2 separate regions of the Homo sapiens genome follow, and region 2 is linked to region 1. The links come from fine-mapping of genetic effects on gene expression. Tissue or cell type: whole blood. Region 1 holds a variant in brackets; the other region holds the start of a gene. All regions are shown on one strand. Distances are between the middles of the regions.

Evidence for each region. PIP is the estimated chance that this variant, and not a neighbour inherited with it, causes the effect.
Region 2: VPS13C starts here. The variant in region 1 is fine-mapped to the expression of VPS13C in whole blood (TOPMed, PIP 0.93).

The regions. Positions count from the first base shown.
Region 1 is chr15:62,013,704-62,021,889 of GRCh38, forward strand. It overlaps VPS13C (vacuolar protein sorting 13 homolog C), which reads right to left. Exons shown (of 85, transcript NM_020821.3): 9 at 6,776-6,835; 10 at 230-289. Among named protein-coding and RNA genes, the nearest start is that of VPS13C, 43 kb to the right of the region's middle. The variant G/A (reference allele first, on the strand shown) is at 3,750.
Region 2 is chr15:62,055,739-62,063,924 of GRCh38, forward strand. It overlaps VPS13C (vacuolar protein sorting 13 homolog C), which reads right to left and starts at 4,709. Exons shown (of 85, transcript NM_020821.3): 1 at 4,537-4,709. The coding sequence starts at 4,636. It overlaps VPS13C-DT (VPS13C divergent transcript), which reads left to right and starts at 4,765. Exons shown (of 2, transcript NR_135690.1): 1 at 4,765-5,105; 2 at 5,230-6,696. RefSeq lists a silencer at 4,571-4,920 and an enhancer at 4,971-5,020.

The sequences.
Region 1 (8,186 bases):
TTGGGAAGTATTAACTGTATCCTGTATCTTCACTTGATAGGTAAAGAACCTATATCTCAGAACTGGTAAGTGATTACAGAGGGTCACATAGTAAGTAGCAGGGCCAAAACTAGACCCTAGACTTTTAACTCACACTCCAATGGCATATTCTGCTCCATCAATGTTTCTTCAAGAAAATAAATTAAGTGCACCTAGGAAACTAACAAAAATTTTTATTCCAACATAATACCTTGTATATAATTTTGTCTGCTTCATTTAATATGCATGGAGTCCAGTGTTCATTTGCAGTCTAAAAGAAAAAAGGGAATACCTGTGAAACGTGGTATGGATGTCATTAATAGCGCTCTAATACTTACATAATGTAACAAAATAATTTAGGAAGAAATGACATCTACTTAATGTTAACTAGTATTAGCTATCTATTTCTTTACATATATTTATAAGACAAAATCAAAGAAACAATGAAAAGAGAATTGACATGATTCTAATTTGAGTTCATTCATTCAGAAAATAATTACTGGGTTAATATGTATTTGAACTGTGGAAAGAATCAGGTATGAATGAAAACAGAGAGCCAGCCTATACACTATTGAATATGGTATACATTCTTTTTAAAAAAACAAGTAATTGTTTTGTAATAGGAAGAAAACCAGGAGAGTATGGAAATTACAGCATGACCAAGTTTCTACAAGGACAGCATGTTCAGCAACACCAAACACTAAACTTATTTAGCAGCAAGGGCGTTATTGAGAAACTTGTTAAGAACTGTTTCAGTGGAGTAGTAGAGTGAGAGTACAGTGAGCACATAGGTAAAATGAGATCCAGATCAGAGGTGGGAGGATAACTTTAGATTTATAAGTTAGATTGTAATTGCAAAGAAAAATAAATGGTATGGATACAAAAGAGGTAGGTTTACTATTGCTGTAGTTGTTATAATAGCCACTATAATAGCAGGAAATAATTGAGCCAGACAATGTGCCAAAAGCTTTACATAAACTATCTCATTTAATCATCACAAAAACACTAAAAGGTAGGTACTACTTCAGTGAATGAATGTGGTTTTGACAGAAGGAGATTAACATGATAACCAGTACAATAATATTTTACAGGTCTTTGACAAAATACAATAGGAAGCATAAAAGAGGGAATGGTAAATTCTAAGAAGGAAGTGAAAAAGAATGAGAAAGAAAGGTCATATATTACTTAAGTATTAAAACTTGAGTAGAATCACCAGGCAGAAAGTAATACAGACAACTAAAGCAGAATGAAGAGTCTGAGCAAAGATACAAAGGGACAAACAGCAGCAAACACTAAGGAAACTACCCATTCTTATGCAATAGTATACCTGTTATCAGACAATAGGAGGTATATGACTATTTTGTATTTTTTGCATTGTCTGCTAGAAGCTCAAAGTTACTCTGCTCCCTTATGACCACTATCATTAGTCACAGTTTTCTGGAACAATTCTCTCTCTATCCTTTAGAACACAGATTCTATCCTCTTTAAAGGTGTTACTGTATACTTGTTTTTGTCGAAAGCTACCTCAAATTCATTTTGGAAACAGGCAAAGGATAAACTAGTTTCCTCCCATGTTGTAGGTTGCCTGTTCACTCTGATGGTAGTTTCTTTTGCTGTGCAGAAGCTCTTGAGTTTAATTAGATCCCATTTGTCAATTTTGGCTTTTGTTGCCATTGCTTTTGGTGTTTTGGACATGAAGTCCTTGCCCACGCCTATGTCCTGAATGGTAATGCCTAGGTTTTCTTCTAGGGTTTTTATGGTTTATTGCGGCACTATTCACAATAGCAAAGACTTGGAACCAACCCAAATGTCCAACAATGATAGACTGGATTAAGAAAATGTGGCACATATACACCATGGAATACTATGCAGCCATAAAAAATGATGAGTTCATGTCCTTTGTAGGGACATGGATGAAATTGGAAACCATCATTCTCAGTAAACTATCGCAAGAACAAAAAACCAAACACCGCATATTCTCACTCATAGGTGGGAATTGAACAATGAGATCACATGGACACAGGAAGGGGAATATCACACTCTGGGGACTGTGGTGGGGTCGGGGGAGGGGGGAGGGGGGAGGGATAGCATTGGGAGATATACCTAATGCTAGATGACACGTTAGTGGGTGCAGCGCACCAGCATGGCACATGTATACATATGTAACTAACCTGCACAATGTGCACATGTACCCTAAAACTTAGAGTATAATAAAAATAAAAAATAAAAAAAGAAGTCCAAAAAAAAAAAAAAAAAAAAAAAACTAGTTTCCTTCACTGCCTTTCCTTTGTTTCTTCAGCTCTCTCTTTTTCTTTATTGTTTCTGCTCTGTTCTTCAATGCGATGTGTATCTCTACTTCTCTATATGCCCACAACATTGTGAAGCCTTCCACATAACCATGTCCTTCTTTTTCTGTTTCTCTGCCAGTCTACCACCCTACCATTCTTCTTCCTCTTCTTTCCTTATTGAGGCCCTCTCCATATAAGTAGTCATAAGGCAAACTTGTCTGGTATGATATATGGTTCACTGTCCTTAACTTTATTTTATATATATATATATTTTTATTATACTTTAAGTTCTAGGGTACATGTGCACAACGTGCAGATTAGTTACGTATGTATACATGTGCCATGCTGGTGTGCTGCACCCATTAACTCGTCATTTACATTAGGTATATCTCTTAATGCTATCCCTCCCCCCTCCCCCGACCCCACAACAGGCCCCAGTGTGTGATATTCCCCTTCCTGTGTCCAAGTGTTCTCATTGTTCAATTCCCACCTATGAGTGAGAACATGCAGTGTTTGGTTTTTTGTCCTTGCAATAGTTTGCTGAGAATGATGGTTTCCAGCTTCATCCATGTCCCTACAAAGGACATGAACTCATCATTTTTTATGGCTGCATAGTATTCCATGGTGTATATGTGCCACATTTTCTTAATCCAGTCTATCACTGTTGGACACTTGGGTTGGTTCCAAGTCTTTGCTATTGTGAGTAGTGCTGCAGTAAACACATGTGTACATGTGTCTTTAGAGCAGCATGATTTATATTCCTTTGGGTATATACCCAGTAATAGGATGGCTAGGTCAAATGGTATTTCTAGTTCTAGATCCCTGAGGAATCGCCACACTGTCTTCCACAATGGTTGAACTAGTTTACAGTCCCACCAACAGTGTAAAAGTGTTTCTATTTCTCCACATCCTCTCCAGCACCTGTTGTTTCCTGACTTTTCAATGATCGCCATTCTAACTGGTGTGAGATGATATCTCATTGCGGTTTTGATTTGCATTTCTCTGATGGCCAGTGATGATGAGCATTTTTTCATGTGTCTGTTGGCTGCATAAATGTCTTCTTTTGAGAAGCGTCTTCTTTTGAGAAGTGTCTGTTCATATCCTTCGCACACTTGTTGATGGGGTTGTTTTTTTCTTCTAAATTTGTTTGAGTTCTTTGTAGATTCTGGATATTAGCCCTTTGTCAGATGAGTAGGTTGCAAAAATTTTCTCCCATTCTGTAGGTTGCCTATTCACTCTGATGATAGTTTCTTTTGCTGTGCAGAAGCTCTTTAGTTAAATTAGATCCCATTTGTCAATTTTGGCTTTTGTTGCCATTGCTTTTGGTGTTTTAGACATGAAGTCCTTGCCCATGCCTATGTCCTGAATGGTATTGCCTAGGTTTTCTTCTAGGGTTTTTATGGTTTTAGGTCTAACATGTAAGTCTTTAGTCCATCTTGAATT[G/A]ATTTTTGTATAAGGTGTAAGGAAGGGATCCAGTTTCAGCTTTCTACATATGGCTAGCCAGTTTTCCCAGCACCATTTGTTAAATAGGGAATCCTTTCCCCATTGCTTGTTTTCGTCAGGTTTGTCAAAGATCAGATAGTTGTAGATGTGTGGTATTATTTCTGAGGGCTCTGTTCTGTTTCATTGGTCTGTATCTCTGTTTTGGTACCAGTACCATGCTGTTTTGGTTACTGTAGCCTTGGAGTATAGTTTGAAGTCAGGTAGCGTGATGCCTCCAGCTTTGTTCTTTTGGCTTAGGATTGACTTGGCAATGTGGGCTCTTTTTTGGTTCCATACGAACTTTAAAGTAGTTTTTTCCAATTCTGTGAAGAAAGTCATTGGTAGCTTGATGGGGATGGCACTGAATCTATAAATTATCTTGGGCAGTATGGCCATTTTCACGATATTGATTCTTCCTATCCATGAGCATGGAATGTTCTTCCATTTGTTTGTGTCCTCTTTTATTTCATTGAGCAGTGGTTTGTAGTTCTCCTTGAAGAGGTCCTTCACGTCCCTTGTAAGTTGGATTCCTAGGTATTTTATTCTCTTTGAATCAATTGTGAATGGGAGTTCACTCATGATTTGGCTCTCCGTTTGTCTGTTATTGGTGTATAAGAATGCTTGTGATTTTTGCACATTGATTTTGTATCCTGAGACTTTGCTGAAGTTGCTTATCAGCTTAAGGAGATTTGGGGCTGAGACGATGGGGTTTTCTAGATATACAATCATGTCATCTGCAAACACGGACAATTTGACTTCCTCTTTTCCTAATTGAATACCCTTTATTTCTTTCTCCTGCTTGACTGCCCTGGCCAGAACTTCCAACACTATGTGGAATAGGAGTGGTGAGAGAGGGCATCCCTGTCTTGTGCCAGTTTTCAAAGGGAATGCTTCCAGTTTTTGCCCATTCACTATGATATTGGCTGTGGGTTTTTCATAAATAGCTCTTATTATTTTGAGATACATCCCATCAATACCTAATCTATTGAGAGTTTTTAGCATGAAGGGCTGTTGAATTTTGTCAAAGGCCTTTTCTGCATCTATTGAGATAATCATGTGGTTTTTGTCTTTGGTTCTGTTTATATGCTGGATTACATTTATTGATTTGCGTATGTTGAACCAGCCTTGCATCCCAGGGATGAAGCCTTCTTGTCCATGGTGGATAAGCTTTTTGATGTGCTGCTGGATTCGGTTTGCCAGTATTTTATTGAGGATTTTTGCATCGATGTTCATCAAGGATATTGGTCTAAAATTCTCTTTTTTGGTTGTGTCTCTGCCAGGCTTTGGTATCAGGATGCTGCTGGACTCATAAAATGAGTTAGGGAGGATTCCCTCTTTTTCTATTGATTGGAATAGTTTCAGAAGGAATGGTACCAGCTCCTCCTTGTACCTCTGGTAGAATTCGGCTGTGAATCCGTCTGGTCCTGGACTTTTTTTGGTTGGTAAGCTATTAATTATTGCCTCAATTTCAGAGCCTGTTATTGATCTATTCAGAGATTCAACTTCTTCCTGGTTTAGTCTTGGGAGGGTGTATGTGTCGAGGAATTTGTCCATTTCTTCTAGATTTTCTAGTTTATTTGCGTAGAGGTGTTTATAGTATTCTCTGATGGTAGTTTTGTATTTCTGTGGGATCGGTGGTGATATCCCCTTTACTATTTTTTATTGCGTCTATCTGATTCTTCTCTCTTTTCTCCTTTACTAGTCTTACTAGCAGTCTATCGATTTTGTTGATCTTTTCAAAAAACCAGCTCCTGGATTCATTGATTTTTTGAAGGGTTTTTTGTGTCTCTATTTCCTTCAGTTCTGCTCTGATCTTAGTTATTTCTTGCCTTCTGCTAGCTTTTGAATGTGTTTGCTCTTGCTGCTCTAGTTCTTTTAATTGTGATGTTAGGGTGTCAATTTTAGATCCTTCCTGCTTTCTCTTGTGGGCATTTAGTGCTGCAAATTTCCCTCTACACACTGCTTTTAATGTGTCCCAGAGATTCTGGTATGTTGTGTCTTTGTTCTCGTTGGTTTCAAAGAACATCTTTATTTCTGCCTTCATTTCGTTATGCACCCAGTAGTCATTCAGGAGAAGGTTGTTCAGTTTCCATGTAGTTGAGTGGTTTTGAGTGAGTTTCTTAATCCTGAGTTCTAGTTTGATTGCACTGTGGTCTGAGAGACTGTTTGTTATAATTTCTGTTCTTTACATTTGCTGAGGAGTGCTTTACTTCCAACTATGTGGTCAATTTTGGAATAGGTGAGGTGTGGTGCTGAGAAGAATGTATATTCTGTTGATTTGGGGTGGACAGTTCTGTAGATGTCTATTGGGTCTGCTTGGTGCAGAGCTGAATTCAATTCCTGTACTGTCCTTAACTTTAAAAGTATCTAAGTGAACCACATCTTCCTCTCCATACATGCCCCAAAACATGTTTCCTACCACTTAGTTGCCTGTAATAGAAATAAAAATGTCCAGCCTATATATATATATACATATATATATATGTATGTGTGTATATATATACAGACACACACTGTCTACTGTTAAAGACCATTAAAAGAAAAACTCATTATAAAATAATCAAAATAAATTAATTTACATATTGCCCAATGAGATGAGTGTGCGCACACACACACACATACATAAACATATGCATATCTATAAGCTATTTAGAAATTCCATCTACCTATACCGAAGATGAGTACATGACTCTACAGAAATTCATCTTCCCCTACTTCCCCCACATGTTTAAGATACAGCTTTTATTTCTTTCAAATCATTTGATAATGATATTTTGATACCTGTTACACAGAAAGACAAAAATAATTTTAAAATGTAATAATAGCATCACTAAAAATGTTAAACTTCTAGAAAAGTTGTTTAGCATGATAATATATTTAAAAAATCATAGTTCTTTGTCGCATAGTTGATTCTAGACAATTTACCCTGTGACTTCAGAATAATACTTTACAGGTTCCATAGAAGTTTAAAATAAAGCAAACATTACCAGTAGACTAAGCTCTCCCAGTGTGACACCAAATGAAAGAGGCCGCTTTGGATCAGTGACCTACCAAAGAAGAAAAGATAACAGTAAAATATGCTGATGGTGAAGGCGAATCCATGTCCTTTACAATAGGCAGCAGAGGGAAATGTGTTTACAGGTTAAGCCATACAACCCAAATGGATTTGTGGAAAACACAGGGGAAGGAGGTAATAACATGGCTGGGATTATCCATATTTTGTAGACATAACATTTCTATGCTACCAATAAGATCCTTTCCCAGTGGAACTCTTTTCATACTAGAAGATGACTCACTAACTATGACTAACAAGACTTCTCTCTAGACAGTTAAAAAGGAATAATCTTTTTATGTGTATAATCAAAGATTTTTTCACAGATAAATTTTAAAAGGTGTTACAGATAACACTGCCACTAAATCATTTTAATAACACTTAGGGTACATAGTGGAATACTATTCAGCCATAAAAAAGGAAAACATGTTTGTTTGGGTTTTTTTGCAGCAACATGGATGGAACTGGAGGCCATTATCTTAAGTGAAACAACCCAGAAGCAGAAAAACAAACTGCACGTTCTCACTTATAAGTGGCAGCTAAATAATGAATACACGTGGTCAGTGTGTGGAATAATACACATTGGAGACTTGAAAGGGTAGGGTGGGTGAGAAGTAGGTGTAAATGATAGGAAATTTATTAATGGGTACAATGTATATTATGGGTGATGGAGACACTAAAAGTTCAGACTTCACCACTATGCAGTATATCATGTAACAACACTGCACTTGTACTCCTTAAATTTACACATTTTAAAAAAAAGGCTTTCATACTTGGAAATATGAACTATCTCTTTAAGCCTTTAATGTTCTTAACACTTCAAAATGCTTCTAGGAAAATCTCTAGATCCTTAATATTTAATTTCTTTAGTCTCTATATCCAAAATCTGTCAACATTAAGTTTTTGTTGTATTTCTGATCTTCAATATCTAAGTTGCAATCCACAGTGCTTAAACTATACCACAGTGTGCACAGTATCACCATTTTAGACATCTTAAAGAAAAGTCTTATAGAATTGTTTGGTCATGGCAGAAACTAAGGGAAATAAGGAGAAGGGAAATGGATAATGTTCTAAATCATCCAACTGGGACTCCAGAGTTTAGTCACATACAATTTTCTAAATGGAAAAAAATCCATGTGGTACAGTTGAGAAGTACGAATAGCTTTATAAGTCATTTTAATTAACATCAGATATACAATGATTTGTGGCAAAATATTTTCCTTTATTCCCACACTCTCTTTTTATACTTAGAGATAACCAGCTCAAAATAAACCTGCAGCTCTTTCCGAAGAAACTCATTTGTTTTATTAAAGACAACCCTCAGTTGCTAATGTACTATCTACAAA
Region 2 (8,186 bases), 42 kb after region 1:
TCGAATTACAGATTTCGTTAAGAGTAATCTACTTCTTCCGTGTCCTTTTTAAAACCTTACAATTTTTTCAGCACCCAGTAGGTCCCTTACAAATGCAGAAGACAATCTCAGTCTTCTTCTTAGACTAGGGTTTCTCAACTAACATTTTGAGCTGGACAATTCGCTGCAGGAAGTTGTCCTCTGCATTGTAGAATGTTTAGCAGTACTCCAGGGTCTATCTGCTACATGCCAATAGCACACCTCTTCCCTCAGTGTGGCAACCAAAAAGTCTCAGACACTGTCAAATATACCCTGGGTACAAAGTCACCTCCCACTGAAAATCACTGCTTTAGGCTAGTTAGACATTCCAGTTAAGATGTATCAAAGTAGTTTATCAATTGATTCCAAAGAATAGTAAGATCAGGTATGTGAGGTGGGCGGCAAGCCACCCAGGCGCCAAGGCAAGAGACCAAGGACACGAGCTGTTCCAGTATAATAAAATATAAAACAAGAATAGTTATACCATATAGATCTTAGAGATATATGAATATCATTAATCATTAGTTTGCAGTAATTACTCTTTATCCCAATATTATAATAATCCTCGCTGTACAATCATAACCTAGGAAAAACCAGGCCATACAGAGATAGGAGCTGAGGGGACATAGTGAGGTGTGACCAGAAGACAAGAGTGCGAGCCTTCTGTTATGCCCGGACAGGGCCAGCAGAAGGGCTCCTTGGTCTAGCGGTAACGCCAGCATCTAGGAAGACGCCCGTTGCCGAGCGGAAGGTGGTCTAGCGGTAGCGAAAAGTGTCAAGGAAAAACACCCGCGACTTAGCAGACCAGGGAAGGGAGGCTCCCTTTCCCCGGGGGAGTTTAGATAAGACTCTGCTCCTCCACCTCTTGTGGAGGGCCTGACATCAGTCAGGCTTGCCCGCAGTTATCCGGAGGCCTAACCGTCTCCCTGTGATGCTGTGCTTCAGTGGTCACGCTCCTAGTCCGCCTTCATGTTCCATCCTGTACACCTGGCTCTGCCTTCTAGATAGCAGTAGTCAATTAGTGAAAGTAGTAAAAGTCTCTGATATGCAGAAATAACGGCATAAGCTATCTTTCTCTCTGTCTCCTCTCTCTCTCTGCCTCGGCTGCCAGGCAGGGAAGGGCCCCCTGTCCTGTGGACACGTGACCCACGTGACCTTACCTATCATTGGAGATGACCCACACTCTTTACCCTGCCCCTTTTGCTTTGTATCCAATAAATAACAGCGCAGCCAGACATTCGGGGCCACTACCGGTCTCCGCGCATTGGTGGTAGCGGTCCCCCGGGCCCAGCTGTCTTTTCTTTTATCTCTTTGTCTTGTGTCTTTATTTCTACACTCTCTCGTCGCCGCACACAGGGAGAGACCCACCGACCCTGTGGGGCTGGTCCCTACAGTGAAATATTTACAAGATGAATTCTTCCCTTTCTCAAGACTTGAAAATTCAACAACAACAACAAAAAAAAAACTCTGTGAACTGTAAACCTTATCTGCTAAAGCAAATAGTTGTCAAAGAAGATTATATAGAATTTTCAATTTTTTGTAAAACTTGTCAACATCATGGTTATCATAAAATGTCACCTATTTTATTAAATTAATATTCCCATTTGTTTACCCAAAAAAGTTTAAGACAAATTTCTTTAGCAATATTTTGAAAGAACAGGAAAAATCAACTCAGATATCTTGCCTTCCAATTTTATTGAGAAATTAGGGTTATCAACAACAGACTGTGCAATAATGATAAAAGCTCGTGACTTCTAGCTTTATAGCAACCACAAAAATAAAAGGCAGCAAAGCTTTACAGAGGCAGAGTTGTGAGCTGATAAAGCTAGGAGAATCCCTGATTGGATGTTCACTAGACACAATATGTGAAAGAAATGGGTTTATTTGCTCAGGCCTATTATAAAGTTAATGTTGGCCACTGGCAGAATACCTTATTCTAAAAATTTAAAAATGAGATGAAAGAAAGTCTCCTTTTCTAGATTTCACCAAAAAAAGACAAAAGGGGAAATAACATAAAATTACGACATTTTTAATTTCAGTTGTGAAAAACTTCAAAATCTTCAAGCAGTATACTCCTCAATGTCATGGTAAAACCATTATCAGAAGAACAGAATATTGGCATCACCTTCGATGTTACCTAGTCCAACCTCCAATTTTAAAGATAAAAGAGAGTAACATTTGATGGCAATGGAACCTCTGACTATATCCATACGTTTTATCTTTTTAAAAAGAAAATGTCTAAAGTAAATATGGCATAATATTATAACATTGAAATATGAGTAATTACATGAAAGTATTATATCATCCAGTATGATTTAAACTTTTCAGAATTTAAAAATATTTTTTCTATAAAGTTTAAATTAAGATGAAGAAACTAAGGCCCAATAAGGTAAGTGGCTTGTCCAACACAGCACACCATTCACTAGGCCTATTCAGATTTCAGATTTGCTACTCCGGTGCGTTTTCAAGTTTCAAATGTTTACAAACTATAAGGAATCACTGGAAAGAATATTGCCAGTATTCTGAAGAAATACTTGATTTCTGCAGAAGATGCTGGTCATTTAATTCCTTAAATGTGTCTTTCTTTACTTACCTTTCCTTTACATTGTATTGAGTGTGGTGGGGGGATGTAAACAAAGAATGTACAGTAGGCCCTCCATATTCACGGACTGAACTAACTGCAGACCAAAAATATTTCGGGGGGAAAAAATAAAAAGTATCAATTCAGCAATAAAAAAATGCAAATTAAAAAACAACAGAACAACTATTTACATAGCACTTACTTATTGGGTATTATAAGCAATCCAGAGATGACCAAAAGTATACAGAAGGATATGCATAGGGTACATACAAATACTAGGCCATTTTATTTAAGGGACTTGAGCAACCTCCAATTTTGGTATGGTCAGGGGTACTGAAGCCAATCCCCCATAGATACCAAGGGACTATTGTATTGTTGGGCAAACCACAGTGAACCAATCAAATGATCAGCCACCTATTAAAAACAGGCTCTTGCCAGGCACTATAGCTCACACCTGTAATCCTAGCACTTTGGGAGGCTGAGGCAGGAGGATCACTTCAGCCCAGGAGTTGGAGGCTGCAATGAGCTACGATCTTGCCACTGCACTCCAGCCTTGGCAACAGAGCAAGTCCTTGTCTCAAAAAGACAAGCCAAAAAAAAAAAACAACAACAACAACAACCAGGCTCTTCCGTAATTCAGGGTATAAACAGCATTGCCCAATATATGTTCCATATACGTAATTATAAATTTTAGAAGCCAAGTTTAAAAAGAAAAAAAGTAAAACTAAAAAACACGGGAAATACACTTTAATATTATATTTAATTTAACCCAATATATTCAAATATTATTTCAACACATAAGCAACATAAAAATTATTGAGGTATTATTTTTTTCTCCTACTTCATTAGGAGTAATGCTTATTCAAAACGATGTTTTAATTCATACAGCAAGTCTCAATTAGCACTAACCTCATATCAAGTGCTCCACAGCTACAGTGGCTAGTGGTTACCCTAGTGGACAGGGGAAGTCTATAGCTATTTGTTGTTGCTTGAATTAAAAGCAGATCCATACATTTGAGTCGTTTTTTGAATTTTCCTCCAAAGCTGACAAAGTTCCCAAACCTTTTGTGGAGTGAGAAAGTCCCAAAGTCCTCAAAGCTTAACACGTAATTCATGCAAACGATTAAGCTCGTTGAAGAGTGTATGTTTAAGTACACTATTTCCTGAATACTTTTATACACTTAATCTCCAGGATAAAAACGTTGGCATAAATTCCTGAGCATGCAACCAAGCAGACACCTAATTAATGACGATGCTGGTCGAGGCTTGAATTTCTCTCTATTGCTCCAAAACAAAATTCAAAATCCTCTTCGTATTGACGGAAAAGTAAATATTAAAGGAAGAAATCATTTTCACAGGAGCTGAAAGCATTAAGAGTAAGAATCCCTAAGCACACGCCTATCTTAAAGATCTCCTGCCCGTTCCTCTCCAAACCCGGTAATCCTAAAGAGAAGGAACCCAGTTCTTGCTCCCTGTAAAATGATAGTGAAGATAACTGCGAGATGCAACTTCCTCCTTTTTTCTTAGTGCCACTTCGAGCGTATATGACCAGACAACCATGCTCACTCCACGCGATACCGAAACAGAAAGGGCTCTGTTTTTATGCTGTAGGGCCAAAGGGGCCACCCTGAGTGCAGCGAGAGGACCACAGAAACGGGCAGGGCGGGGACAGCAGGGCCAGGGCTTGGCCTCGGGGGACGAGAAAGGTGGGAACTTTGGCAGCGCGGGCGGGATCCCGCCGCATCTCCCCAGCCGGAGTCGGGACTGGGACCCCGAGAATCCGCGGGCGGCAGAGGCTCCCGCATCTAGCACCTGCCGCACCGGGATGGGGAGTCTCAGGCGGCGCAGGGAGCAGGGCCCGGGCAGAATCCCGGACGGAGCAGCCCTCGGCTGGGCCCTCAGCGCCCGCAGCCCACTGGCCGCGCCCTCTCGCTTACCGCCCCAGATGCCCAGCTTCAGCTGGGACTTGTTCAGGTTCTCCACATAGTCCCCCAGGAAGCGGTTCAGCAAGTCCGCGACCACCGACTCCAGCACCATGGTGGCGCTGAGGCACAAGGAGAGGGAGGAGCCGGAACCGCCCGGCGCAGCTGAGGGCTGCGACCAGCGCTGCAAATGACAGCCCCTCCGGCGCAGGCCCACCCCCGCGCCGCGCGCGTGACCCCGCCGGTGCGCAGGCGCGCTGTCGCCCGGCCGGTAGCTAAGGAGGCCCAGCTGTGATCCCGAGGCTTTGTAGGCGCCGCAGCCCTGGCCCTCTAGAGGCCGACGGAGGAGTGCGGGGGAAGTTAGCTTGCGCCTGTCTCGTCAGCCGTGCACGAGAAAAAAAAGGACCTTCGAGAAGAACAAGGGAGGGCAAGAGTTACCGAGTACAGGGACATCTATGTGGCCGCTCTGCTTTCCCGCCGTCACCTGCTGTTGAACTCCGGCCGCATCGCGGTGTCCGGAGCCGCCTGGCCTGGAGTATGCGCTGAGCGTCACCTAGGCAACCACCCCTGCACCTGTGGATCAGGTGGGGGAAAGGGACCGACCGCGTTCTTGTCCTGCTAGAGTTCGACTCCGCCTGGGGCTTGGTCTCTGCTTCTTGAAAACATTGTTTTTTTATTTTGTTTCTGTTTTGTTTTGTTTTGAGACAGGGTCTCGCTCTGTTGCCAAGGGTAGAATGCAGTGTCGGGATCATAGCTCACTACAGACTTGACATCCTGGACTCAAGAGATCCTCCTGTGTCAGCCTCCCGAGTAGCTGGGACCACTGGCGCGCGACAAATAATTTGAAAGTGGGAGGAGGGGAACAGAACCACATCAAATGGCAGATATCATAGAATGAGAACTGAATATACGCGTTTTGTGGGAAACGCGTTCTTTTCCCCTTTCTCTAAGATTCGCTTTTAATTCACTAGCCACTAACCAGTTACCTATCTCATTACAGATATAAAAAACAAAACGTAGTAGTGCCTTTTTAAGTATGAGTTACTTGTTATTTATATATCACTTTCTTCCATGCTATCGTTGAACTGTCTTTGATGTAGCACGACCTTAAAAGCAGAGCTTTTATACCACAAGATCTTTCAACCCTTGTGAAATTTAACCACCCATTGAGATTCACCTCTTTAGAGAACTAGAAATTTTTTCCTAAAATATATTTCAAAAAGTTGTTGAGATACAGTACACAGGAAGAAACCTAAGAAATGCTGATTATTTGTAGTCACAAGCATTAATAAGTGCTTTGCTACGAGGAAGTGTCTGAGAAACTATTCGTGTATTTTTCTTAAACAACCTAGGCTTGCACAGGATCACAAAGAAAAATCTTAAATTCAAAGTCCGCTGGAGAAGAAAGAAAATCAAAATGGCTACAATTGGTGTTGTGTATTAAATAAAATTAAAAGTACAAAGAAAGACCCAGTCAGTACTAACTAGTACTATCAAGATCACATTCCTCTCCCACTTTTGCACACTCCATTCCTCTTTAAGAAGATAAATCCTTAACCGTCTGTTTTTCCTAGCTGGTCACAAAGACAAAATACTAGTAAGTACTTTGGATTTCTTCACCATCCACAACCAAATAACAGCCTAACCTGTCTATTTTGCTTTTGCCATCTTTCCTAAATTCTCCATGTTTTTCTTCTGGACCATGCCATCCATCTCCTTGAAATTCACTTCCTAGCCTCCAGTTATTCCTTCCTCCAGTCTATTCTCATGAACACCGGATGTGTTTTCCCAAAGCACAGGTGAGCTTAGGTTAGTCACCTGCTCAAAAACATCCAATAACTTCCCAGTGTTTAGAACACTCTCTTCAAACTTTCTCCACGTTCTTTCTAGTCATACACTCTAACAATCCCGCTTCCTTTTTACATTCACACTGACTATGCTCCAAGAGGAATGTAAAGAAGCAATATATGTTCTGGTTGAGATAAGGCATGTACCATAAAAAGTTAAGAAAGAAGCCAATCCAAGGATGTATGAATAACAGTATAAGATGATAGGAAAGATGGCACAGGCAACATAGCTTGGTCAAGCAGGTGGAGCAATAGGCACAATCTCTTGGGAGAAGTGAGTAACACTAATGCTTTGTCTAATAAAGTAATTCCTTACAGTTCTATGGTATAACTTGGTAATTTTGAAAGAATAATGTGTAAATGTGCTTTCATATGCATCATTCAATTTTATTATGTTTCAGTTATACTTTGTAAGGCCTCATGTCATTATTATGCGAAGGTAGGCATTTTTGTGTACTCCTCACAAAAGAGCTGTGAGGTAGCTAATGCAGGTAGTAGTATGGTCCTCATTTTACAGAAAAATTAAGCTCGGGAATGTTAAGTGACTTACCCAAAGTCACACAGCAGATATTAATTTCCTTTGATTCTCTGAGCACTGCCACCCTTTTCTCTTCTGGTAATTATACAATTTAATCAACACTGGGCTATTAGTCATTTTCAGAGATCTTACTTTGAAAGGTTCATGACAGAAAAAATAAATCTCAGAGTGGAAAATTTGGCTCTACATTTTTGGTACAAAAAAATGCTATTATCATGTAGTATAAAAAGCTTTAAATTTTACTATTTTCCATTTTCAGCATGTTTTAAGGGATTGATTATGTGCATTCAGTAATGCCCCAAATCTTCCATTATTTAACAAGTCAGAAATATACAGTCCCAATTTAAAACAAACTATAACCAATGTCAAGAAACACCATTAGCACCCTTATGTATGGCATTATATCAGAAATAATTTGGATAACAGAGGTTAAAGAAAATGAGCATTCTAATTAATTATAGTTCTTGCCTTCATTCTGGCTTAAGAACAATGAGAATGACAACAAAGGAAATTACAAAACTAAACTTCAATGAGGGACTAAACAATAAAAACAGATGAGCAAAGTATTTCTGTTAAAAACAAAAGTATAAGTTAGGGACACTTAAAAATTAACTCAAAAGTGTTTAAAAAAAAAAAAAAAACTTCACACTAACCACCACCCATACCCTATTCCCCAACCCTAGAGTTTTTGGAGAAAAGCAGAAGGAATTTGGGGGAAAGGAAATGGAGGAGAAAGCTGGAGTATAAGCCATGACACCATGGACTGCAGGAAAAGTTAGGGAGGTTAACTAGGAGAAAGCACGGGAGTGGATTTCAGAATGTTAGTGCCAGAGGGAGGATCATCCTGTTAATCCAGCCCCCTCAATTGACAGATGGAGACACTGAGTGCCAGGGAGAATTAAGGGTTTGCCCAAAGTCCCACAAGTTAGTGACTGTCAGAGCAAAAACCCAAACCCAAGTGTCCTGACTCCCTGCTCTGTATTCTTTCCAGTACCCCATACTCTAGTTGTGTTGAACAAGATGCATAAGTCAGAACACTGGTGTTTTATTGGTTGTAATCTCTCTTCTTGCTTTCCTTGACACTCAACCTCCTATATTTTTGTAAGTATGCTTTAAAATGTTTAATTTCCTTTTACTCTTAGAGCACCTCTGGTCTTGATGGTATGTGGTCTATTCATGCTCACTTTACAGAATTGTTTTCCAGCTCCAATACTGGATGTTCCCACAGCTACAGCTGGGAGCTTGGAACAGCCACTGTCTTCCTGTGAGTAGATTTGTGT